Regions from separate parts of the Homo sapiens genome. Here regions 2, 3, 4 and 5 are each reported to be linked to region 1. The links are microRNA targets in miRTarBase. Many come from high-throughput screens and were not tested one by one. Region 1 holds a microRNA gene; each other region holds the end of a gene's coding sequence.

What was found. The annotated mature microRNA hsa-miR-4770 reads UGAGAUGACACUGUAGCU and lies in region 1 at 2,041-2,058, opposite strand. An mRNA with a match to its seed (bases 2 to 7 or 8) in the 3' UTR can be bound and repressed. Matches are read on the target gene's strand: a 7mer-m8 pairs with bases 2 to 8, a 7mer-A1 pairs with bases 2 to 7 and ends in A, and an 8mer does both.
Region 2: miRTarBase lists RAB22A as a target of hsa-miR-4770. Seed matches in the 3' UTR shown: 7mer-m8 at 1,194-1,200 and 7mer-A1 at 2,926-2,932.
Region 3: miRTarBase lists GALNT6 as a target of hsa-miR-4770. Seed matches in the 3' UTR shown: 7mer-A1 at 3,272-3,278.
Region 4: miRTarBase lists ELMOD1 as a target of hsa-miR-4770. Seed matches in the 3' UTR shown: 7mer-m8 at 1,091-1,097 and 7mer-A1 at 1,720-1,726.
Region 5: the mRNA of PHAX is a reported target of hsa-miR-4770. Seed matches in the 3' UTR shown: 7mer-m8 at 3,448-3,454 and 7mer-A1 at 2,450-2,456.

The regions. Positions count from the first base shown.
Region 1 is chrX:6,381,867-6,386,971 of GRCh38, forward strand. It overlaps MIR4770 (microRNA 4770), which reads right to left and starts at 2,097; the gene lies at 2,040-2,097.
Region 2 is chr20:58,359,034-58,364,138 of GRCh38, forward strand. RAB22A (RAB22A, member RAS oncogene family) reads left to right here. Exons shown (of 7, transcript NM_020673.3): 7 at 573-5,105. The coding sequence ends at 670. Among named protein-coding and RNA genes, the nearest start is that of VAPB, 28 kb to the right of the region's middle.
Region 3 is chr12:51,350,115-51,355,219 of GRCh38, forward strand. GALNT6 (polypeptide N-acetylgalactosaminyltransferase 6) reads right to left here. Exons shown (of 12, transcript NM_007210.4): 12 at 1,138-4,378. The coding sequence ends at 4,265. Among named protein-coding and RNA genes, the nearest start is that of CELA1, 6.0 kb to the left of the region's middle.
Region 4 is chr11:107,664,236-107,669,328 of GRCh38, forward strand. ELMOD1 (ELMO domain containing 1) reads left to right here. Exons shown (of 12, transcript NM_018712.4): 12 at 790-2,544. The coding sequence ends at 962. Among named protein-coding and RNA genes, the nearest start is that of SLN, 45 kb to the right of the region's middle.
Region 5 is chr5:126,623,773-126,628,877 of GRCh38, reverse strand. PHAX (phosphorylated adaptor for RNA export) reads right to left here. Exons shown (of 5, transcript NM_032177.4): 5 at 1,626-4,303. The coding sequence ends at 4,034. It also overlaps the pseudogene RPLP1P7. Among named protein-coding and RNA genes, the nearest start is that of SPMIP10, 5.4 kb to the left of the region's middle. RefSeq lists a silencer at 3,875-4,075.

The sequences.
Region 1 (5,105 bases):
TCATCCTACTCTTCATCCCTGCAACATCTGTCCTTTTTTTTTTTTTTTGAGACAAGATCTTGCTCTGTCACCCAAGCTGGAGTGCAGTGGTGCGATCATAACTCACTGCAGCCTTGATCTGAGTCCAAGCGACCCTCCCAGCTCAGCCTCCCAAGCAGCTGGGACTATAGGCGCTTGGCGATTTTTTGTTATTTTTTTGTAGAGATGGGAGTCTCCCTATGTTGCATAGGCTGGTCTCGAACTCCTGGGCTCCAGTGATCCTCCCACCTCAGCCTCCCAAAGTGCTGGGATTACAGGCGTGAGCCACCGCACCCAGCCGACACATTTAAAGAAATGTTTTGGCAACTTATCAAATACCCACAGATTGGATCTAATCATTTAAAAAACACAAACTTGGTTGTAGACTTTCTGTCCTTCTGAGGCCCCATGACTATGTAGTCCCAAACTATTCTCGCCGATCACAAAGGAACATTCTGTTTAGGGCTACTTTTACCTTTGCTTAGACCATCCCTTTATTCAATTAATGTTTGAAACATCATACAGTGGGGGAAACAGCCATGCTATGGAGTGCGCAATGTTTGTTAAAAATTAAACAACCACTCACCCCTCCTTGCCCCAGTGACCTTTTCTTATCTAATCTTTTTCTTGGCACCGGTAAAGAGAACAGCCTTTCTTCACATAATCGCTCCATGGCTTCTCAGCAGAACATAACCAACCGCCTTGCTGAGGTGGCCTAGGGTGACCGGGTCTTCCTATCTTTTGTGCAGAGCTCTTGTCATGCGCAGGAGTTTGGGGAGATGCCCCCCACCCCCCCGCAAAAGGTTTCCTATGGCTTTAAAATAAGAGGTAGTTCAGGAACATTAACTGTTCACTTTACATTTAAGATATGATCTCCTGGAGATGTTGATGTGCCAGCTGGTCTTGTTGAGAGGCAGTTACTGATCTAGCAGGTGTTTATAGATTTTACACCTGTCTTGTTCTTTTTTTTAAAAAGAAACAACCTGCAACTAACTAACTTTATTTCGTATGTTAATGAGACAGATGTGAAAGAACACAAAATCAAAATGCTTCCCAGGATTCACAGCTCTAGTGTTCCTTGGCTTTATGGTTTGGAAGGAAAGCTGATTTATATAGGCAGAGGCTCTCTATATAGGTCCTTACCTCCCCTGTCCTGTTGTTTTGGAATGTGAGCAGAACACACTCAGGTCTACTGTATGAATAGGACACCCTGCGCCCTGAAATTCCATCAGCTTCACAGATCTCTCGTGGATTCTCTCAGAGTGATGACTCCCTCTCCCTTTCTCCAGTGTCTGAACACTACGTGGTAAGGGACTTTCCACGCACAATATTACTCTCAGCAGACAGAAGATGCTTTCCTGGAGAAGAAAGCGGCAGTATCTTCCAGAGGCAATTGGAGTTTTCAAATGTTGGTGGAGTTATGGGGTTGAAGGCTCCAGCTTTACTGGGTAGAGTCTCACGCCTCACAGTGCGCTTGCCCTGGGGCCCACTGGCTGTGTGTGGGTGCTTGTCCTCAAAACTGTAGCAGCCCAGTGCCCCTGGAGAGCCACTTTACCCAGCATCACTATTAGGTGCTCTGCCAGCTCTGTGGCATGGAGAGGAATTGTCTGGTAAGAACGGAATGTTTTCCATTCTCTCCATCAAGAACTCGAAAGGCTGATTGACAGGTGCAAACGCAAATCTGGTCATCTAGGCTGAATTACAAGATGTCTGGTGGAAGTTAAGAGACTTCAGGAGGTATTAAGAGGGATGGAATACCTGGAATTCCTTGGGGGCCAGGAGAGTTGAGCCATCCTCAGAGATGTGTGCATACTGCAAACCTCCTTTAAGCCAGGGCACTGGTATTGTGGGAAGCCCAGTTAGGGATTAGAGGGATTCCAGAATTAAGATCAACAAAGCAGTCTGACACCCTTTGGGGTGCCAGAGATTATCACTTAGATTGAGGACAGGGGAAAGGGGGTACACTCAACTCAATTGCTTCCTATAAAATCTTACAGACATCAATGATCCCAGAGGATGGGGAGCTACAGTGTCATCTCAGATCATTTTCCAAGGGAAGGATAGATGACCCCATAACTCATTATCTCTAAGAGAGAATGAGATTCCACATGCAAGATAGGAATCAAAACCCTTTTCACCACCTTCATTGACTCAGTTATGCAAATGGCCCTAGCTCATAGCCTCTAAGCCCAGAGCAGACAGTGCATCCTGGTTGCTGATTGCATACCTCCTGATGGGTTGTAACTGTGTGCTTTACGGAGGGCTAGTGTAAACATTCTCATTGCAAAGCGTCTTGCATGGATGAGCAGACATAGAGTGGCATTTGCCGGAGCTGAGCACCCCTGACTTCAGAGTTCACGTTTGGCAAAGTGATTTGTTGCACTACTTGGCAATTGAAGCATCCCGAATAGCTTTGTTTTATGGGGTGGGGGGCGGGGGCGAGGGGAAGAGAGTGGAGCTTTCTGTCTCCCTACTAATCAGGAGGGTCCTTGTTTGGGCTTTAGGCCCCTTCCCTTGTTTTCTGGGCAGAGGAATTGCCCCTAGGAATCCTCTGCAGGCCCTGCCAGTTTCAGAGCTCCCTCATTTTCATCTCTCCACTTCAATGAGCTCATTCACTAAGGCTTTCCCACAGCCCAGGATCTGACTTGGGTGGGCCTGCTTGGGTTTTGTGTGCCTCTGTGCCAGGAAGAGAACAGGCACAGGGCTCTGCTTGGCTATTGCCGGCATTCCTGGGCTAGTGCGTCACGGGGTCTCATGGTGACAGCATTCCACTGGAAACACGGAGTCCCGGAACCCAATTTTGAAAGGAATCCTCTCTAAAAATCTTTCAGGAGGGAGAAAACAGAGATTTCAGAGAGTTAACAGTGCTCCTCAAAACAGCGTTTGTCAAGGAAATTAGTAGCGACTTGTATGACACCCTCTTTCTCCTGTGATTTCACTTTCCTAAATGTTGATTGCTCCGGGGTGTGGGGCTTTTTTCTTCTATACCCAAAGCCACCTAGTAGAAGGGTTAAGTGCATAGACTTTTTCCAGGCGATCTCTGTGTTCATAAAGAGAAGTGGGGAAAGGGCTCTAGTGTTTCAAATGTAAAGTAACCATTGTTAGGAAAATGACTTATTCTTTCTTTCATTCATTTATACAAATGTAAGTTCTGGCTATGCTTAGCTACTCAAGGGAAATCAGAGGCAACTGGGTCCTCTAGGGATGTTTAGCAATATCTGGACACGTTTTTTATTTGTCCTCGCTGGGAGGTTGTTCCTGGCATCTAGCAGGCAGAGGCCCAGCGATACTACAGGGCACATGCCAGCTTCCCATCATAAGAAATATCTCCTTCCAAATGTCAATAGTGGTGTTACCAGAAAGGGGTCTCTATCCAGACCCCAAGAGAGGGTTCTTGGATCTCGCACAAAAAAGAATTTGAGGTGAGTCCATAGAGTAAAGTGAAAGCAAGTTGATTAAGAAAGTTAAAAAAAAAAAAAAAAAGAATGGTTACTCCACTGAGCTGCTCCACCGAGGATACTTATTATTACTCCTTCATTATATGCCAAACAAGGGGTGGACCATTCATGAGATTTCCAGGAAAGGGGTGGGCTGTTCCTGGAGCTGAGGGTTCCTCCCTTTCTCAGACCATGTAGTGTAACTTCTGGATGTTGCCATGGCATTTGTAAACTGTCATGGCGCTGGCGGGAGTGTCTTTTAGCATGCTAATACATTATAATTAGCATATAATGAGCAGTGAGGATGACCAGAGGTCACTTTTGTTGCCATCTTGGTTTTGGTGAGTTTTGGCCGGCTTGTTTACTGCAACCAGTTTTGTCAGCAAGGTCTTTATGACTTGTATCTTCTGCCGTCCTCCTATCTCATCCTGTGACTAAGAATGCCTAACCTTCTGGGAATGCAGCCCAGCAGATCTCAGCCTTACTTTCCCCAGCCCCTATTCAAGATAGTGGAGTTGCTCTGGTTCAAACGCCTCTGACAGTGGGATGGTTGAGAAACTTGGGGGTAGACCAAGGGCAAGGCAGCAATCTCAGCCTGTGGAAAACATTTTAGTAGATGCCATTGTAATGTCTGAAGTCATTCAATTATAATGTCAAACTCACTGCAAAACATGCATTATCTAAATATCTCTTATAGTTAGCTTTCTTTCTCTCTCTCTATTTTGCTCTCTCTAATTCTACATTTTAAAATCATATATGTACTGACCAATACGATGTTTGGCTGATCATTGGAAAGGCAATTGGAGAAACTTAGCAGCCCTGTTGAAATCCTCGACATATGCCATCTCCATGCAAATTCAGTACAAGGCACAATAGTAAAGTGTGGCTATGATATCATCAACTTTGAGGGGCCTCATTTCCCCCCCTAAATCCCTAGTCTCAAAGCCTGACTCCACTTTCTTCTGCCAGCCAAGAAGCTTGTCAAAGCCTGAGGGCATCATTGCTCTTTCCCCATTTCTAGCAGATGGCCGTGTTGTGAGACATTTAATCCACTGACTGAATCAGTTACAGTAATACCAGTGGCTTCTGAAGATCAGCCTCAAATAACAGTAGCTCAATGAACATAAATGGCATCAGAAAAACACAAGTAACTGAAGAAATTACAGGGGTTTATGTCCGCTCTTTCTTCGTTCAGAGAATGTTATTCTGTGGGCATTACTGAAAAGGGAGCTTTTGTTAATGGCTGATCTTAGAAACCAGACTTCTTCTACATTGTGATTCTACTAACTCCAACATGAGACATCTAAGAACAAGTTGGGGATTTTTTCCATTGCAGCCAGCAAGGAACAGAAAAGAGCGTGAAGGTTTGCATGTCATAAGTAGCACACAGCACACAACCGCCCCACCCAACCCCACTGGTGAGAACTGGGCTCCACAAAGACCTCTGGCACATGGGAAGCTTGGAAGTGCATGTAGCCTTGTGTGCCTGGGATGAAGAAGACATGGGTTTGCTGAGCCAGCATCTGATCTGCAAGGTGCTTCATCATTTCTTCACCATGTGACCTCTGCAAGTGACTTAACCTGTCCGGACCTCAGAATGCTCTTCCACATAATGAGACCTGCATGAGAGTAACTGTCAGGTCACATCTG
Region 2 (5,105 bases), not on the chromosome of region 1:
AAGGGGAGATGGGTAGGGATATAGGTGTGCCTGAGTGTTTGTGCATATATGTCTCTGGAAGGCTACACGAGAAATGGGCCACAGTGGTGGCCTTGTCATGAGACAGAGGGACAACCATGTTCTGACTGAACTTTTTAAAAAACAAATCCTATGTATTACCTACTCAAAACAAAATGTTTTTGATGTGTGGCTTTTTTTAATTAAAAAACGTTTACTAAGTGCTGTGTGATATCCTTGTTTGGATCCTGGGGCAGAAGCAGGACATGTAGAAAAACTGATGCTATCTGAAAAAAGTCTGGAGTTAATAGTGATGTGGCAATGTTGAACTCTTCATTTTGACAAATGTCCCATGGTAATATGTCAGCACTGGGGGAAACTGGGTGGGAGGTACACAGGAGCTCTATCATCTTTGCAGCTTTTCTATAAATCTAAAATTATTCGAGTATAAAAAGTTTATTAAACTTTTTTTTTTTTTTTTTTACTTCAGTGAAACCTGTCAAATTGCATCTGCAAAATTGTTGTGTCTGAGAAAGTTAAAGCTCACTCCCTTCCCTTTTCTCATCTTGGTTTAGGTCGAAGAATTCCATCCACTGACGCCAACCTGCCATCTGGCGGTAAGGGCTTCAAACTCCGAAGACAGCCTTCAGAGCCAAAGCGGAGCTGCTGCTGACCGAACCTCAGCCTCTCAGACTTGATGATGAAGTAGGTGGTCCTGAAAGTTAACAGGAGGGCTGGGGTCCCTGCCACCAGTTTTCACCTAGCCAGTCTTGAGTCTTCTCCGTGCAAAAAGGATTCACAGAAATGGACCAGTTCTGTTCTCCAAAGACTGCAGCAATGATATTTCAGTCTGTGAACTTCTATTATGTAAAGAATCTCTAGTGTACAAAGGGACTACATCGTTGGCTTTTGACCTTGCTGAAAAGGAACATATAATTGTATGGATGGTAGGATTAAGTTGTTGAGTAGTTTTGTAATCAAGATTTTATGTAACATTTGTAAAGGGAAAATTAGCACTTTTGTGGTTCTTAAGGGAAAAGAAACAGACCTTGTGGAGATTATAATTTCCTTGGTTTCTGTTACCACTGTTAGAGGGAGTTGTATCATTTAACATATAGTAGGATAGTTTAAGTGTAGGGAGGACAATTATTGTCTGAAGCTAAAATGGGTTATTTATAGGACTGATGGAAATGATTTCATCTCTGCCATCTCTAAAGCACTTTTCATTGAACATGTTAGCCTAGGATACGTACAGTAAATTAACAATGATAGCAGCAGATGCCTAGCTCATCCTGGGTTTGCTTCTGACCTTGTCATGTGTGTGCCACCAAACACGTTATTGGCACCTTTTTAAATAAGCTCTCATGATCAAGATGGTGATGGTAGAGAAGCTGCCCGGAATAAACTGAATTTCATATGTTCTAAAATGACTAGCAATGGTTTAAAAAGGAAGAAGAGTGGAAGTGAAGAAGGTGGTATAAATGCTGTCAATTTTTTTTTAACCCAAGTATTTTGGTGGGGAAAAGCAAGTATCTATTGCTTAGCATATGTAAAGTTGTAGTCTATATTTATGGGGCCATTGCTTAAAGATTATAAATTATGTAAATACATTAATAAATTCTAAGTTTCATTTGACATTCCATTGAATCTCGCACCCAGTCTTGCGTATGCCTGCCCAGTTTTCAGCCTCTTAACGGGAGACTCAAGCACATTGGTATTGTATAAAGGTATAGAGCACTTAGCTTACAATCTTTAAAGGTTTCTCTGCCTTCCCTTCTACCCACCCGCCTCCCACCAGATCCCATCTGGAAATCATAATAAAGACATATGCCACTTTGACAAACCTGACTAGTCCTTACTAGCCTGAGGGTAAAAGATTAAGCTCCAACCTCAAGTCATTTACCTGGTCTTGGTAATAAGTTTCTTTTAGCTTGTACAGCATCCTCAGACCAACTGAGGAGCTTTCCTTGTTAACAATTTAGCTTATCTTTCTGTTTCCTTTATTTTTCCCCTGCCTCTGTTAGTGGTTAACACTCTTTTCCCTCAGGGAGCCTAATGAGGTTTTTAATATCATCTAAAAATAAAGCATTGAAGTGAAGTTGGTGAAAATTTGTTCCTGGTCTAATTTGGCACCCTTCCAACCTGAGTATTGTAGGGGAAGGAAATTTACAAGATTTAATAGGAAATGAAACAGCTTGAATTTCAAACTAAATTGTATTTTCAGAGCTATCCTGAAACTGAACAGCTGAAACTTTAAAAAATAATTGGTATTATTTTGTGCCCCCCACTTAATATGGATAGATTTTAATGGGAAAATTATAATTCAGATTAAATAAAAAACAATTCCCTTTTCCCTGTTGTATATCTTAAGCATTTGGAATTTTTTTTATCTTCTGAAATCATATAAAAAGAATGTCATTAGTAAAAATTCTAACTTCGTTTTGTTTAAAAGACATGTGGATGCTCCATGCCCCTAGGATTTTGCTTCCTCCCCGGTGCTAAATTAGCAAGCTCCTAGAGAAGCCATGTGATTCCCAGAGCCAGGCGCTTTACACCTAAAGTAGTTTGACTTTCTTCTGTATACATCCAGATGGATCCCAGGCATCCGGGCACCACCCTGGTGTGTCCCTAGAATTCCCACTGCTGGGCCTCTATCTCCATGACAACAAAATAAAAACAGAGGTTGCTTGACTCATTACCAAAGAGGCAAAGCATGTGCGACCCTTTCTGTCTTATTTTACCAAAAGATGGTGCAAATCTATGACCTTCACATTTTTTCCACCACACCCACCAGTAGCTGTTGGTGATTGCATGGTGTCTCGGTGCATGGGGAAAGGCAAGGTCTTCTGAGCTCATCTTAACTGGTGAGGCATCTGGATGTGTCTGATCTTACTGTGATGTTTTACTGTACCGAGCCCAATGTGGGTCCATCTCATCAGCCCTTTGCTGATTTCATGATTTCTCACCCTCCCTCCCATATGTAGGGTGTGATTCTGTTTTATTATAGCCACATGTTTTATTAACAGAATGAGTGATATGAAGCTTGTACTTATGCATTTCTCGGGCCTCTTCCCTCATTTTCATCAGTCTGTCTAAGAACTTGACTCGGCACTGTTTCTCGTGTAATATCCTTCTAATGCTTAGCAACAACAACAAAAAATTGCTCTCTCAGATCCATAATCCATACTCAGTGAAAGCAGGGAAAAAATATTTTCACTTATTTTATTTGCTTCTAAAATGCAAAGATGAATACTAAAGTCAGAAGCAGTGTTTCATTTTGAACACATTTTGGATTATTAAGCTGACTAAGCAATGATCTAATACACATTTCATATTTTCTTTATAATAATTTCTTATGGAGAAGAGGCTATATTTCAAAGGAATTGAGACATACTCCCATCTATAAACATGTTTGGTTTTCTTACGATACAGGGCCATTTTTTTAAAACTCTCAGGACTGAACAGAAGAGAAAAATTATTAATTAGCTGCTACTGTATGTTGATTCTTTTCGGAGAAATTGAAATAAGCTCTTTGCAGGCGTCCAATCCTAGAAACCAATGGTCTCCAGAACTCTCACACAAGTGTTTTTCTGATTCTATGATAACTAATTAACCATCATCTGGTGATTAAAAGAACATAAAGTAAGATTATGATTAAGTGTCCATCACCTGCCTGTCAGCCGTGGTCAGAATAAGTTTTACACGAAGCAGGTGAAAGATTTAGTTCTTTTCAAAGTAACTTATTTTCTTGTGACCCGTTTATGATGTTGTTTGAAGTCCCTGTTTCCCATTGTGTACGCACTTTCTGGATGTCTGGAAGGATCGGGACTTTTGTGTGAGAGGCTTGAGCGCCTCCTCTATGTGGGCTGGTGTCCTTCTTGAAGTTGTCAATTCCTCTTATTCTTAAATATCTAAAGGGAAAGGAAACCAACTTTAATTTCAGAACTTCTCTTTACGTCTTGTATGTATTTCTTTTCTGTTCTCAAGGAGGAAAATTGGTCTAGGAAGCCTTCTAAATTAAACTCTGGGAAATATAGTAATGAAAATATCCTTTAGCTAACTTTCCTGTAACTGTCAAACCAAAATGTCAGTATTTTTAGGGCATTGTGTTAAAATAAGCAGTTTAGATTCCGACGACACTGCACTAATTGGCATGTCAGCCTCCAGCTCAGAAAGGCATTTGCTCATGGTTACAGGCATCTTTTAGATTCTAAGAGTGAGTTACAGAATTCTTTTTGGTACTTTCACTTATTCTTTCAGAATACATCAAGGATGTGATTTATGGGCCCTTAAGAGTATAAGATATAGGTGCACAGTATGTTACTTAAGTAACGGATGAGCCCCCCTAAACATCCACGTGTCTCTGCAGGAACCTGTGTAAGTATTGTGAAAACCCTTTTCTTCCAGGGAAAAATTATTGGAAATTCCTTAACTGAGCTATACTTGGTACTTGCTCTAGAACATTTGGGAAATGACAAACTCAGGCTGGCTCTCCTCTCTAACCTCACTGGGCTATAAATGTTCCTTCTAACTCTGTAATGAAAGTTCAGTGACAAACTAGATAGTGAACCTGTGAAAGTCATTATTTACATTTGCTTTAAAGGGACAGTTTTACCGTTCAACTTCAAGAGTTTTTCTACCTCTTTAACAGTTAATATTTTTTAAAGGAAGAAATGGAATGTACCTTCAGGGGTCAAGCTGTTAACTGTATACCTGCCTCTAGTTAGCTTGGTTTATCAAAAGGATTTTTAAATGATTCAAGGTAATGTTTAGGATATTTGTTTTAACTCCTGCTGTGCTGTGATTTAAAAAAAAATAGTCTAAGAAACAAATTTATCCATGAGATAAACATCATATTTTATAGTTTTAGAAAAAAGGGTTGGGGGTGGAATTTAGCCTAGAACTTAAAGAAACAACCTCTGCGAATTTCTCTTGACAGCGGAGTTGCTTGTCTTGACTTCTAATAATATAAATCCAGGCAGTTTGATTATCCGATTTGCAAGAAACTTTAATGGAATTCTGGGGCATTTGTCCTGTTTTATGTGCAAATGAAAGTCTAAAAAATATGAGGAAGATATTACATTTTTCAGGAGCCTCCATTTTTTCAG
Region 3 (5,105 bases), not on the chromosome of region 1:
GCTGGCACAGTATTACTTTGGTAATTAAAAATAAGAATAAATTCTGGGACATCTAGCTATTTGTGGCAATGGCCCCAGTACTCTTCATGTGGGAAACAGATCCCCAGAGAGGCCTAGCTCTTTAATGCTAGAGTGAGAGACTCCTAGAGCCGGGAGATAGTAGCACAGGGCTAGCAGCAGGGTTTTAAGAGGTAGGGGCCTTAGGTTAGCTGAGAGTGGTCAGAGGGGTGGGTTTTAAGGAAGAATACGGGTGTTGTTAGGGCCAGGCCAGGCTTGACTAAGGAAAATGCCATGAAGAAGCTAGTTTCTTGTTTGTTTGTTTGTTTTTTTGAGACAGAGTCTCACTCGGTCACCCAGGCTGAAACACAATCTCAGCTCACTGCAACCTCTGCCTCCCAGGCTCAAGCGATTCTTGTGCCTCAGCCTCCCGAGTAGCTGGGATTACAGACGCCTGCCACCACGTCTGGCTAACTTTTGTATTTTTAGTACAGACTGGGTTTCGCCATGTTGGCCAGGCTGGTCTTGAACTCCTGACCTCAAGTGATCTGCCCGCCTCGGCTTCTGAAAGTGCTGGGATTACAGTTGTCAGACATTGGTGCCTGGCCAAAGCTAGTTTCTTGAGCCTTCCCACCACTCCCATCAGTGCCTTCTCCCTCTTCTCCACCACCTCCCTTCCCTAGTCCTCCCCTCATCCCTGAACCCAGACCTCCTCTCTAGACACAGCCTGTGTCTCCCTCCTGCTGCATCTCCCACTCCCTGCGAGTAGCTCTTGGCTGACTGTGCCTGGGAAGTGCTATGCTATTTGGGGGCAGGTGGAACCTTCTTGACACAGCTGGGCACCTTGGTTGGGCTACATCATATGATTAGGCTGGGGAGCTGTTGGGTGATACCATAGACAGTATGAGGGATACTGGGATCCACGTTTGGATATTTAATGCAACCAAGAATAAGGCTAGGGTTAGGCTCCACGACTCCCTGTGGCTTACCGGACCTACCAAAGCCTCTCTCAACTGGGCCCCAACCCACTCTTGTACGGGGCTGAGTTACCCAGTAGGCACAGCAGGTGCAGTGCCCAGGGCCCATAGAAATGTTTTAGCTTCTTTTAAAACCAGAAGAAATAAAGTAAATCCAATCAGCCTGGATTACATTCATCTTTATACCAACATAGTCATAACATTAATTTTTTTTTGAATGGAGCAAGAGCTCCGTGAAGGCTAAAGTGCCTAGGGCCCCTGAAATTCATGATGTAACTCTGATCTTCCAGCTTCTACACCAGTCACTCCCTCACCCCAATGTCCTCTGGGTTTCTCAGACCCACTGGGGCCACATGTCCTCTGTGGCTTTGCTCCTGCCAGGCTGCTGCCTGTGTAACAACTCTGCTTATTGAGCCCTTCCCATCTGAGGACTCATCTTCCGAGGTCTTAGGTCAAACATTGCCATCTTTGTGAGGCCTTATCTGATTCCCTAAGTGGAAGGAATTGCTCCTTCTAACTCATCCAGCACCTCTTGGAGCATCTCCAGGCTTGCTATGATTTGCTTACATTTAGCGTGTGAGTTCCACGGGGACAGGACCTCGTTTGACGTCTCACGTCTCCACGTGCTTGACACAATACATAAGCTAGATTTAGGGCCAGAGAATGTTTGGGGACATGAGACAGTGGCTGTAACAGAACTTTTCAGATGTGTGTGGTTCTTCATAGCCCAAATCAACTGATTCAGCTAAGGGACAACACAGGTAAGAGAACACAACGCGAGTTTCCTTGACCAATGCCAGAAAACCTTTATTTCCACTGAGACCTCTCATCCAATTCTCTTCTTTCCGGGAACTTTTTCCCTTCCCTACTCCAGGTCGTACCCTGGCCACTCCTTTCCTTTTGGCTGGCCAATGTCTCCTCTGTAGGCTCCAGAAGGCTCTCAGGGATGTAGGCGGCCTCCCGCAGGGTTGAGTTGCAATGGGAACAAAGACAGCTGTGGTCCCATAGCACCCTCATCTGGTGACATCCTGCTACTGACAGTCAAAAGAAGCCTTCCCAGATGAAATTTTAGTCCTCTGCGCAGCCATGCTCTTCTTCCAGCAAAAGAGCCATGTGCAGTCGGGTCTGCTCCCCATGGGGGCTTTGATGTGGGCCCAGCAGTGGATCAGCCTTCCAGACACGCTCAACTCTGCACACTCTTCCTGCCGCCTCAGGCTTTCCAGGACCCTCCCGAGCCTTATCAGAGTCCTTACCCTCAGGGCTACTGATACCTTGCTGGGTGACCTTGGACAGATTCACTTACCTGGACTCAGTTTCATAATATGAAAATGATAGGGTTGGGCTACGTGATTTTCACGTTGTGCTTCCAGATTGTTAGAAGTTAGGGGCTGGAAGGCATTACCTGTCCCTCTCTCAATTTCACTCATGCTACTTTGTTTTTTTAATCTACCTTTTATATGGGGCTTAGAAAAAAGGGTTCTGGGACAAACCTGAGAATCACTGGCTCCAGGAGCTTTCTTTTAACACTAACATCCCAGGATTCCTAAGTGTGCTCTCTCCACAATGGCTACCTGGCCCTGTTTTTCCTTTCTTTTTTTTGGAGATGGAGTTTTGCTCTTGTTGCCTAGGCTGGAGTTCAGTGGCGCGATCTTGGCTCACTGCAACTTCCGCCTCCCAGATTTAAGCAATTCTCCTGCCTCAGCCTCTTGAGTAGCTGGGATTACAGGTGTGCGCCACCATGCCTGGCTAATTTTTATATTTTTAGTAGAGATGGGGTTTTACCATGTTGGCCAGGCTGGTCTCGAATTCCTGACCTCAGGTTATCCACCCGGCTCGGCCTCCCAGAGTGTTGAGATTACAGGCATGAGCCACCGTGCCCGGCCCTGGCTGTTTTCCTATGCTCTGTGGAGGCCAGCCAGCTAGAAATGATTAGAATGGAGGAAGAGGGAATGAGAAGGCTGGTGGCGAGTGGTCTAGCGTTCTTGTGGTGCAGCGGAAGGAGCCCTGGCTCAGCATTGAAGAACGAGCCTCAGTCTTGGCTCCAGCCATCTGCTAGCTATGGGACTACAGACAAGCCCCTTTACCTGTGTCTCAGTTTTCGTATCTGTAAAATAGGCACAGTGGTTTCTGTCCTGTCTTTCTCACAGGATTACTGTACAGATAAAGTAAGATAAAGGACACCTGTCAAGGAGATATCTGTAAACAGTTCTACAGACTTCAGGTAATAATAGCAAGGGAGGATCTCTTAGACCTCTGATCTGTCTGTTAGAATATACTTTTTTTTTTTTTTTTTTTCCTGAGATGGAGTTTCGCTCTTGTTGCTCAGGCTGGGGTGCAATGGTGCTGTCTTGGCTCACTGCAACCTCTGCCTCCTGGGTTCGAGTGATTCTCCTGCCTCAGCCTCCCAAGTAGCTGGGACTGCAGGTGCGTGCCATCATGCCCAGCTAATTTTTGTACTTTTAGTAGAGATGGAGTTTCACCATGTAGTCCAGGCTGGTTTCAAACTTCTGACCTCAGGTGATCCACCTGCCTTGGCCTCCCAAAGTGCTAGGATTACAGGTGTGAGCCACTGTGCCCAGCCAGAATATATCATTTCACTGGACTCTGCAGGTGCTTTGGATGATCAAGGAATAGGACATGGCTGTAGAAGTACTTTTCTTCTTCTTTTTTGTTTTTTTTTGAGACAGAGTCTTACCTGTTGCCCAGGCTGGAGTGCAGTGACACAATCAAGGCTCACTGTAGCTTCAACCTCCGGGGAACAAGCAATCCTCCCACCTCAGCCTTCTGAGTAGCTGCGACTACAGGCATAAGCCACCATACCCAGCTTTTTTTTTTTGCCGGGGGGAGGGTGGGCGTAGAGATGGGATCCTCACTATGTTGCTCAGGCCGGTCTTGAACTCCTGGGCTCAAGCCATTCTCCCACATTGTCTTCCCAAAGTGCTAGGATTTCAGGCATGAGCCACTGTGCCCAGCCTGAAGTACTTTTCTTGAACTCAGCATTGCTGCCCTGAACCCTCCCCCAGCTGCCTTCCCTACTTTGGGAGCCTCTATTTCTAGAACAGGAAAACGCTAGGCTAAATATATGTCCTAATGGTCTCTTCCATCGGTGTGAAGGAAAGAAAATGGGCCCAATGTTGTTGCAAGGATTAGGAAGGTCCTGCCTTGCCACCCAGTGGGTTTAGAAATCCATCTTTACGGCCTCCAGAGAAGCTGGTGATCAGGTTCCCAGACATCAGCAATCCTGTTTCCTGAGGAGCTTGTGGGGGCTCTCTCTGGGGATGATCTGGGTCCTAGACAAAGAGCCACAACTGATGGGGGTCACTGGGATTGCAGGGGGCCATGGCTGGCTTTTTGTCCTGGGATGTCAGGCAGGTACCAGATCCTGAGTTCCTGATGAGCTGATCCTAAAAGATGACAAAGCAAAAGGTCAGTCTGGGCCACAGACCTCTTAACGGTGCTACCAGGGACAATGCGATGGGGTGCAATTGACAAAAGCCAAGGGAACCCCACAAGGCACAAAGAGGACACTTCCCCATTCCTTTCCTGCCCTCTCATGAGACACATTCCTGAGTTCCCACCTCTATCTGGTGCCAAATCCCCATCCCTAGCTTCAGACTGAGTGGATGAAATGGTGAAAGACAAGACCATGGGCTGAGAGAAAAATGCTTTCAGGGCCTCCCGCACCCCCAGATGGCCAGGCTCAAAGACCCAGGGCCACTGCTCCACCTCCAATTTTCTGCCTTGGATTATGTTTAGACTGCTCCCTTCCCTGCAGCCTCCAGGTTAGGTTCCTCTTTCCTAAGCTGGGGTGGAGTAGGGAGGCTCACTTGGGGTGCTGGCTTGAGCTCAGCATGGTGGCGGTTACATGGCATATCCTGGAGCAGTGTGGTGTAATGGAAAGAGCCCGTGCTTTCAAGTCAGACCCATCTGGGGCTAAATCCCAGGCCTGCCATTTACTAGTGATGGGTCTTGGGCCAGTCACAGACATGCTGGGCTTCCTCCGGCTCCAGCTCATCTGTAGAAACAGTGACTATTCCTGCTTGGAAAGAGCCTCTGAAAGATTAACTGGACCCAGGCATGTGAGTGCCTAGCTTTGAGCCTAGGACACAGAGGACAAGCAGGAACTATGAA
Region 4 (5,093 bases), not on the chromosome of region 1:
TACAAGTATCTAGTATTAAAAAAAAAACACTATGCATATTTCAATACTAAATGTGGTAGATAAAAATAATTAAACAAATGTGGTAGTGGGAGGGGGCATAATGGGGAACAAAGCACAATGAATAGGTTCTTATATCAAATACTTAACATTTATTCCCCAAATTGTTTCAATCCAGATCACTCGTGGATAGCATTTTTGAGACACCAAAGGATTTGAATATGAAATTATTGCTTCAGAGCAAGGAAGTCTTATTAACAATTTCATGTGGTTTAACGACCAGTCTGTGTTGTTCAGGGTTGATTTACAATTTTTATTGTCTCATAATAGAGTGTCAGAATGCATTTGTTTGATTTGTCGGGGTAATTTAAAACTTTAGTTACATCAAATATCAAGAGAATAAAGTCCGAGTGGAGTGATTTTGAAAAGTTGGACCGTCACATTAATTTAATTAGGAGGAGAAGGATGAAGTAGTCACTGTCAGCCTTTCAGAAAATGTTCCCGATGCGATTCATACTCAAGAGATGGCAGAACTGATTTGTCTTCCTGCTTGGGAAGAGTGAGAATGATTCCAGGGCCAATTGCAAAAAGCTTGCAGATTGGTAGGCTTCAACTGCACTGATTTTAAAGAATAATCTTAAACAGTGGTATTTTCTAGATTTTGAGGTCTTCTTTGAGCTCCACGGTTGCTGTGGCTTGGTTCAGCATCTTCCTCAGCATTCAGAATGATTTTGAATGTGATTAAGGATTTTTTTTTCTCCTGCATTCTTATCATTGTATTGTCTCCAACAGGCTATTTGATGCATGAATTTCATAAGTTTTGGATCGAAGAGGACCCCATGGACATAATGGAATTTAATCGTGTGAGGGAGAAATTCCGCAAGAGGATCATCAAACAGCTGCAGAACCCAGACATGGCGCTGTGCCCACATTTTGCTGCCTCGGAAGGTTTAATCAACATGTAGTTGCCCACGCCGGTTTTAATGGATACCCTGGAACACTGCCTCATTGTCTTGTTAGATCTCTGCTTAGGTCGCAGCTCACGCATTGAATGCACACAGTGATTGTATGCATGCCTTTTGGTACAGTGTTTTCATCTCTTGGTCATAATTCCGAGATCCCCAGAGACCACTGTTTCTGGAGTATCTGTCATCCAGTGACTGCTCATATTGTGGCATTATGCAGTGTTACATCTTGCCTTGATACCCAGGTATGGAGAGAGTTTTCTATTTTTTTAGACTTTTTTTCCTCTCCCTCATAATTCAGCATTAAAGAATTGTATTTCTCTAGCTGTATTTTGTATGTAAGAGGTTTAGCTGAATCTCATTCTGTGAAAGCCTTTTAATTTATTGAAATGTTTCATGACTACTGCTGCTAGCTCTTCAAGCCAGGTTCATGCTTGGACCTCATTCTGATAAAGTATAAGACTTTAAAATAATACAAAACAGGGCCGGGCGCAGTGGCTCACACCTGTAATCCCAGCACTTTGGGGAGCTGAGGCGGGCGGATCACGAGGTCAAGAGATCGAGACCATCCTGGCCAACATGGTGAAACCCCGTCTCTACTAAAAATAACAAAAATTAGCTGGGCGTGGTGGTGGGTGCCTGTAATCCCAGCTACTCGGGAGGCTGAGGCAGGAGAATCGCTTGAACCCGGGAGGTGGAGGTTACAGTGAGCCGAGATCATACCACTGCACTCCAGCCTGGCGACAGAGCAAGACTCCATCTCAAAAATAAATAAATAAATAAATAAATAAATAAATAAATAAATAAATAAATAAATAAAATAGTACAGACAGACACATGATAAGCCAAACTGTTCCTGCAAACATAGCTATGCTTCATGAGGCTTACAAGAAGTAACTTTAGGTAGGAGCTGTTTTTGTTTGAAGTACTGCAAAATTATATTGTAACTTCCCCTCACCCCAGTTGCAATTGTGTCATAGTCATCTGTATATCAAACTATTTTATTCCCATAACTTCATTGGCTTGGATGCCTAAGTGTATGATGCTTGAAGCCTCAGAAAAGAAATAAGCATATTTCAAAAGCTGCAAAAGGTTTTTCACTGCCTGCCTCTTGCGGAACTGGGTTACACCCTGGCACTGTTCTGATCCAAGCATATTTGCTTGGGGAACTAAGTGCTGACTAGTTTGTTTTCTATGTCAAGGGGCAATATTAAAAAACAATTTGCAAGAAAATGTGTTTCAAGAGAGCAACCTAAGCTAAGTCACTCTGCGATATTTCTTGAAAATAACGACCTTGTCTTGTATCAGTGGAAGAAGTAAGTTGCTTAGAAAGGGAAAAGTCAAATTGTTCCAGAACTGCTAAAAATCATTTTAAAAACCATGATTTAGTTTGGAATTATGATTGTAGTCTGTTGAATAGTATTTACCATGGCATTTCATACCCATGGTATTTTATACCTTCTGACTATCAATTTTAGTATTATTAGATGTTTGTGTAACCACTTGCTTATTTAAATGAATTTTGAGTACTGCCTAATTGTCAGTTATATGAATAAATTACATGTCATTCTACTGTAACGTATATTGGATTTCATATTAATATTTTTGTGCTCGTACAGCTTCTGAATATGCAAATATGTGAGTGAATGGAATGTCAAAGACAGACAACCTGGAGCTGACTATAAATCACACCATCATTCAGAGTCAGCAGGTTCACAACTTCCTAGGAAACCTGGCTTGGCTGTTGCTAGATAAAGCAGAAACATTAACTACCCATTGTTTTCTTGGCCTTTCTCTCCCTTCTGCGTTTGTATTATCCTTTCCTTCTGCGTTTGTATTATCCTTTCCCTTTCAGCCATGTACCAGGTGGCAGCATTTTGCATTGCCTTTCTTATGGTCCTGTGTCCCTTCTTAGAATGCGGAAGGGAAAGAGTTGATTAGCACATGGTGGATACCATGAGTAATGACAAGAATGTATATTCCTCTCTCAAGTAGGGGAGAACTTGTCAACCTAGTTCCTCAGGCCTGCCTGAGGAGCCCTGAATTTCCACCGTAGCTGCAGCTGCTGTAGATGAAGGCATTATTCCACATGCAGTCCAGCCTTTGCAGCCACATGTGCTCATTGTCTCTTTTTATCCATTGTGGTCCCATGTCACTGTCACGGCTTGACAGCATGTGGCACTTACACCAGCTTGCGTCTCTTCTGTTCAGATAGAGATAGTTGACGCCAACAAAGCTAAGAGTTTCCCCTCTCAGCTCCTAGGATGCTTTCTTTCTATTGTATTTGAACATGGCTGCACAATCTTAGGATGAACAAGCTGTGACGGCTCCTTTGAGCTCTGAGTATTATTAGATTTCTCATTCACACCACTTTGTGGAAGATGCATTCCACCCAGTCACACAAAGTGAGGTGAGAAAAAGAAGAGGAGAGGTTTCAAAAGCATCAACAACATGTGGAGTGTGTGTGTGTGTGTGTGTGTGTGTTTCCCTTGAATATTTTTAGCTTATACTTTTCCATTGAATAAGGGTTGACCACATAAAATGTCAATTGTGCGGCAAGCCTCTTCCAAGTCTTCCAAAGCACTACTTGCTATGATAAAAACACATTCCTGTTTGCACTACAGAAAGAAAACCTTCTGAAGCACTGTTTCTGAAACTTGACTCTGACCTTCCTTCTCACGGTTCTTGTTATTGTACTGTGCTGAAAAACTTTTGCCTGGTAACCCACCATCTTTTCCATATTTGAAAAGAGGCTTAAATATATGCCAATCCCAAAAGACAGGGTGACCTTACAATATATCTTCCAAAACAGAACACTGTTGAGAGAGAAAGGGGATGTTGTTAATGGTTTCTTTAGAACAACAGAGTAAACTGGGACAGTTTAAGAAAACTGAGATGTTAGGTGGCCAAGAGAGACCAAGAGACAGACATAAGGATTGTCCACCCACAACTTAATTAGGCAAATATAGCCCAATTTCTTTACTTTCAAGCCTCTGGCAGGAGAAGTACATCATACAGATATAGACATTTTGATATCCAGGATACTACCCAAAATCTTAGAGACCCATCACAAGCATGGGCTTGGTTTGAGCTGAGAAATTCAGCTGCATAGATGGGGCCTAAGTTGGCAATAGGCAATCAAACTCCATGGCAACAAATTATCTTGATCCGTAAACATATGGTGCCAGATCCAAATTGAAGGGGAGTGAGGAGGGGACCAGAGTTGGTGGAATATGAGGATAGGAGATGGCAGATGATGGAGAGAAGAGGAAGGGGGCAGAGAAAAAGGAAAATATCAGCTAGACCCATAGCCACTAAGCCTTCTGACACAGACTCTATTAAAGCAATGCCTCTAACTCTTCAGGGAGCTCAACAACGGTAGCTGCTCTAATCTAGAGAAAAAAATGACAGAAAAGCAGAACCAAGTATAACATGAAGTCCTAGAAGATGAAAGAGATTCTGGTACAGATTCCATTTCAAGAGCTCACATTTACCAGGTTTTTATGCCATGTGCCAGGACGGTGCTAGTCCTTACCTTGCATTATTTCATTTCCTTAACAACACACAGGATCAGATGGGTTGTTGTTTGCCTGCGCACTTGTTTTTCTAGACAAACAGGCTTAGATAATTTAATACATTGCCAAAGGTCTCAAGAGAGAGAAGTATTAGGTTGGTGCACAAGTAATTGCGGTTTTGCCATTGAAAGTAATGGCAAAAACTGCAGTTGCTTTTGCACCAGCCTATAAATGGCATAGCTAGACTTGAACCCAAGGCCTTAACCCCAGACATTCAATCATTATGCTGCTGTCTACCTAACTGGAATCCTCTACTATCCCAGGGGACTGGTGAATTATAAACACACACAAATGCGTACACACACTCCACCCCCAAGTGATAACAGAAGTGTTCATAAATACTTCTCTCTCAGATGTCTGTAGGGTGAATTCAAATGCTGCCATACTGTCCCTCAGGACTGCCCACAGTTTTGGTCAGGTTTTTTTCCCCTTGATACTCAAAGAACAATTCTAGGACCTTAAGCTCTTTCTCCTGATCCCTGTCTCCCCCAGGAGAGGAAGGCTGCAAATCTCCTTTCTGCTCCCTTGCAGGGGAAACCTCAGCAAGGTGGGTTTG
Region 5 (5,105 bases), not on the chromosome of region 1:
ATGCTGGTTTGATGAGAGCATAAACTAAAAGAATACATACCTAAGAACAGTTTGCACATCTTGATTTGGATAGCCAGAAAGGTTCAGAGTCATCTTAGATAATTTTTTATTATATTTTTGGAGATGGAGTCTAGCTCTGTGCCCAGTCTGGAGTGCAGTTGCATGATCTTCGTTCACTGCAACCTCCGTCTCCCGGGTTCAAGCAATTCTCCTGCCTCAGGCTCTCAAGTAGCTGGGACCACAGGCACACACTGCCATGCCCAGCTGATTTTTTGTATTTTAGTATAGACGGGGTTTCACCGTGTTGCCCAGGCTGGTCTCGAACTCCTGAGCTCAGGCAATCCGCCTGCCTCGGCCTCCCAGTGTTAGAATTACAGGTATGAGCCACCATGCCGGGCCGATAAATTTTTAAAGAACCTTAAAAACTGCCCTTTCCTCAGCTGCTGCCAAGGTGCTTGGTCATTCCAAGGAAGCTAAGGCCACATTGGGGTGAGAGCCTCACTTCATCCGGCGATTAGCACCTCATCCAGCAGCGCCAGCCCCACACACACCCGTGCCATGGCCTCCCTCTCCGAGCTCGCCTACATCTACTCGGCCCTCATTCTGCATAATGATAAAATCAATGCCCTCATTAAAGCAGCTGGTGTAAATGTTGAACCTTTCTGGCCTGGCGTGTTTGCAAAGGCCCTAGCCAATGTCAGCATCGGGAACCCCATCTGCAATGTAAGGGCTGGTGGACTTGCAGCAGCTGGAGATCCTACCCCCTCCACTGCTGCTGCTTCAGTTGAGAAGAAAGTGGAAGCAAAGAAAGAAGAATCCGAGGAATCTGATGAGGACATGGGCTTTGGTCTTTTTGACTAAACCTCTTTTACAGCATATTCAATAAAAACCTAAACTTTGAAAAAAAGAAATAACCTTAAAAATTGAAGCACTGCTTTCTGTATGGCAGTAGGATGCAACACAAGCCAGAAATCTGAGTGGTTTCCAAATGTTAAAGAAACAACTATTGGCTGGGCGTGGTAGCTCATGCCTGTAATCCCAACACTTTGGGAGGCTGAGGCAGGTGGATCACCTGAGGTCAGGAGTTTGAGACCAGCCTGGCCAACATGGTGAAACCCTGTCTCTACTAAAAATACAAAAAAATTAGCTGGGTGTGGTGGCGTGTGCTTGTAATCCCAGCCACTTGGGAGGCTGAAGCAGGAGAATCGCTTGAACTCGGGAGGCGGAGGTTGCAGTGAGCTGAGATGGTGCCATTGCATTCCAGCCTAGGCAACAAAAGTGAAAACTCCGTCTTAAAAAAAAAGAAAAAGAAAAAAAAAAACAACTATTGCTAAAAAACCAGGAAGGTGTGGGGAAGAAACAATCTTGATGAAGATAAAGTAGCTTCAGGCATCAACGCCCTTTAAAAGGCATAACTTTTGCTAGAAAAATTGGCAATATTTACATTAATATGTGGCATTTAAGTATTCAGAATAATTATCTTTCTTAATGTACTATTTCTAAAATCACCTCCCATAAATTGTCTTAGGGTCAATATCCAATTACCTTTTAAAAATATTTTTCTTGGCTATAGCATTTTTATGAAAAAACATTCAAGATTTAAAAATATAATCACTTGAAGCTCATTAAGGACTGCCAAAAATCTAATTTTATTTTTGCATCCTTTATAAATAAAAAGCAACCGATAACCACTTTCCTCTTAGATCCAACTTCAATGACCACATTCTCAGAACTACCAAAAGACTTCAAGTACACTGTCTGTAAGGAACAGTTTATAATTGCTGAATTTTACATTTTTGCTTAATATACAACATTTCTGCTTAATATATCAAGCATATTTTTGCTTAATATATTTTTGTAAACTATAGTTAACTCTTGGAATGTCTAAACTACCTTATTTTCTTCATTAATAAAAATGAGTAATTTAAAACTTCATGCACATGTAACATTTTACTATTATTATTTTTGAGACAAAGTCTTGCTCTGTCACCCAGGCTGGAGTGCAGTGGCACGATCTCGACTCACTGCAACCTCTGCCTCCTGGGTTCAAGTGATTCTCCTGCCTCGGCCTCCCAAATAGCTGAGATTACAGGCATGCACCACAATGCCCGGCTAATTTTTTGTATTTTTTTTTTTTTTTTTGAGAGGGAGTCTCGCTCTGTCGCCAGGCTGGAGTGCAGTGGCGTGATCTCGGCTCACTGCAACCTCCACCTCCTGGGTTCAAGTGATTCTCCTGCCTCAGCCTCCCTAGTAGTTGGGACTACAGGCATGCGCCACCACGCCCAGCTAATTTTTGTATTTTTAATAGAGACAGGGTTTCACCATGTTGGCCAGGATGGTCTCGATCTCTTGACCTTGTGATCCACCCGCCTCCACCTCCCAAAGTGCTGGGATTACAGGTGTGAGCCACCGCGCCCGGCTAATTTTTTGTATTTTTTGTATTTTTAGTTGAGATGGGGTTTCACCATGTAGACCAGGTTGGTTTTGAACTCCTGACCTCAAATGATCTACCTGTCTCAGCCTCCCAGAGTGCTGGGATTACACACATGAGCCACTGCGCCGGCATATGTAACATTTTAAATACCTGACTTCCTTAACATAAGGTAAGACAGTCTTAGGCAGGCTGCCACTGGGAATGTTTTTTTCTTTTTCTTTTTTAAATTAGAGACAGGGTCTCACTACATTGCCTAGATTGGTCTCAAACTCCTGGGCTCAAGCAATCTTCCTCTCTTGGCCTCCCAAAGTGTTGGGATTGCAGGTGTGCGCCACTAGGCCCAGCTTGAAAAATTTTTTAATGCATGTGGTAATCCACAGGAGATCACATTTAGTATATGACCAAGTTAATTAAGAAGTCAAAAAACACGTTAAATTTAAGCAGAATAAGGCTGGGTTCGGTGGCTCATGCCTGTGATCCCAGCACTTTGGGAGGCAGAGGTGGGCAGATCATTAGGCCAGGAGTTCGAGACCAGCCTGGACAACATGGCGAAAGTCTTTACTAAAAATACAAAAATCAGCTGGGCGTGGTGGTACACACCTGTGATCCCAGCTACTCAGGAGGCTTAGGCACATGATCGCTTGAACCTGGGAGATGGAAGCTGCAGTAAGCTGAGATCCTGCCACTGTACTCCAGCCTGGGTGACAGATCAAGACTCTAACTAAAAAACCCCCCAAAAAACAAATAGTTACTTGGAAAACTTCCGACATTTATTTACTTCTGGACAAACAAATGAGTGGGAAGAATCATCAGTATACACCTCTTAATTGTATTTTTTTTTTTTTTTGAGACAGAGTCTTGCTCTGTCGCCCAGGCTGGAGTACAGTGGTACGATCTCAGCTCACTGCAACCTTTGCCTCCCGGGTTCAGGTGATTCTCCTGCCTCAGCCTCCCGAGTAGCCGGGATTATAGGCATGGAGAACCACACCTGGCTAGTTTTTGTATTTTTAGTAGAGATGAAGTTTCACCATGTTGGCCTGGCTGGTCTCAAACTTCTGACCTCAAGTGATCTGCCCGCCTTGGTCTCCTAAAGTGTTGGGATTACAGGCGTGAGCCACCGTGCCTGGCCAATGTTAGTTTTTATCCTTAAAATTGCCTGAGTTCTTAGAACACAGAAAAAACAAATTTGAATGCATTTCTAACAGCTTAATAATTTATATGTCCCATTATGATTTTAGCGGAATGTTTTAAAGCAAAGCATAATTCACTGCAAAGATAAACCTGAAAAAGCAAACAAACTTACAAATGGTATGTTATGACCTAGACAAAACTGATTATCAACTAGTAATACTCATAATTAGCACATGCAACAGATTGAGAAATTAAATCCTGTGCTATATACTCTTAAGTATTTTGTCAGATATATCTTTAAATGTTCTATCAATTGCATTCCTTTCCACACATATTTTAAACAAGAAAACAATTGTCTTTCCTCCAGATTCTCATGTTTATCAGTGCAAAACGTTGCAATCTCAGTAAAAATGGTTTATTACAATGTTATTTTAGAAAGGCTTAGTCCTCAAACTGTTGAAAATGTACTTAAAAGATGTCCAAATCATGAGAATGATCAACTTCAATGGCTTCCTCTGCCTCCAACTTGGCTTCTGCATGTCCTTCCTGTGACTCATCAAGAGAGGCCAAGGCCTCATTCGTGTCACTTGCAAAAGTTTCTCGTGATGTATCATCATCTTCTTGAAAATTTAGACTTTTAATAGCTTGTTTCATCTTTTTCCCCAACACTTGTGTTCTCCTCTTCCTAGCAGCTTTTTTATTTTCATATTCCTTTTGGTTTTCAATGTAGAAAATGTCCTGTAATAAAGGAACAAAGTTAGTAAACAAGAACTACCACGTTATTAAAGGTTTATTCCATGACTGTCCCTTTAAAATCATTATCTCCATTTCTTACAAAAAATACAAGTATTATTAGGCTCATTATTAAGATGGAGTTCAAGATATTAAGTAAGTACTCATTGCAAGATTGAAACTGATTTAAACCCAGCCTAGTGTTAGGTTTAGGGCCCATGCTTATTCTACCTTAATGTATCATCTCTACAGTTAAAAATTTCCTAAATGAAGGCTGGGCATGGTGACTCATGCCTGTAATCCCAGCACTTTGGGAGGCGGAGGTGGGTGGTTCACTTGAGGTCAGGAGTTGCAGACCAGCCTGGCCAACATGGTGAAACCCTGTCTCTCCTAAAAATACAAAAAGTAGCCGGCTGTGGTGGCACACACCTGTAGTCTCAGCTACTAGGGAGGCTGAGGCAGGAGGATCATTTGAACCCAGGAGACAGAGGTTGCAGTGAGCCGAGACTGTGCCACTGCACTCCAGCCTGGGCAGCAGAGCGAGACTGTGTCTCAAAAAAAAAAAAAAAAAACCCAAAACCAAACCAAAACAAAAAGTCAAAAAGTTTTGGAGCATTTTGGATTTTCAGATTAGGGATTGTCAACCTGTACTAAAACAGAGACGGTTCAAAGGTTTAAAAAAGAAGCTAGTGTAGGCAGGACACACTTCTGGGACCCTATTATCTCCTGGGCAGGGATTCCAAAAAGCTCAAGCCAAGCCAGTCCCTGTTATATTCTTAAAGAATACAAATCCCAATCCCTTCTTGTT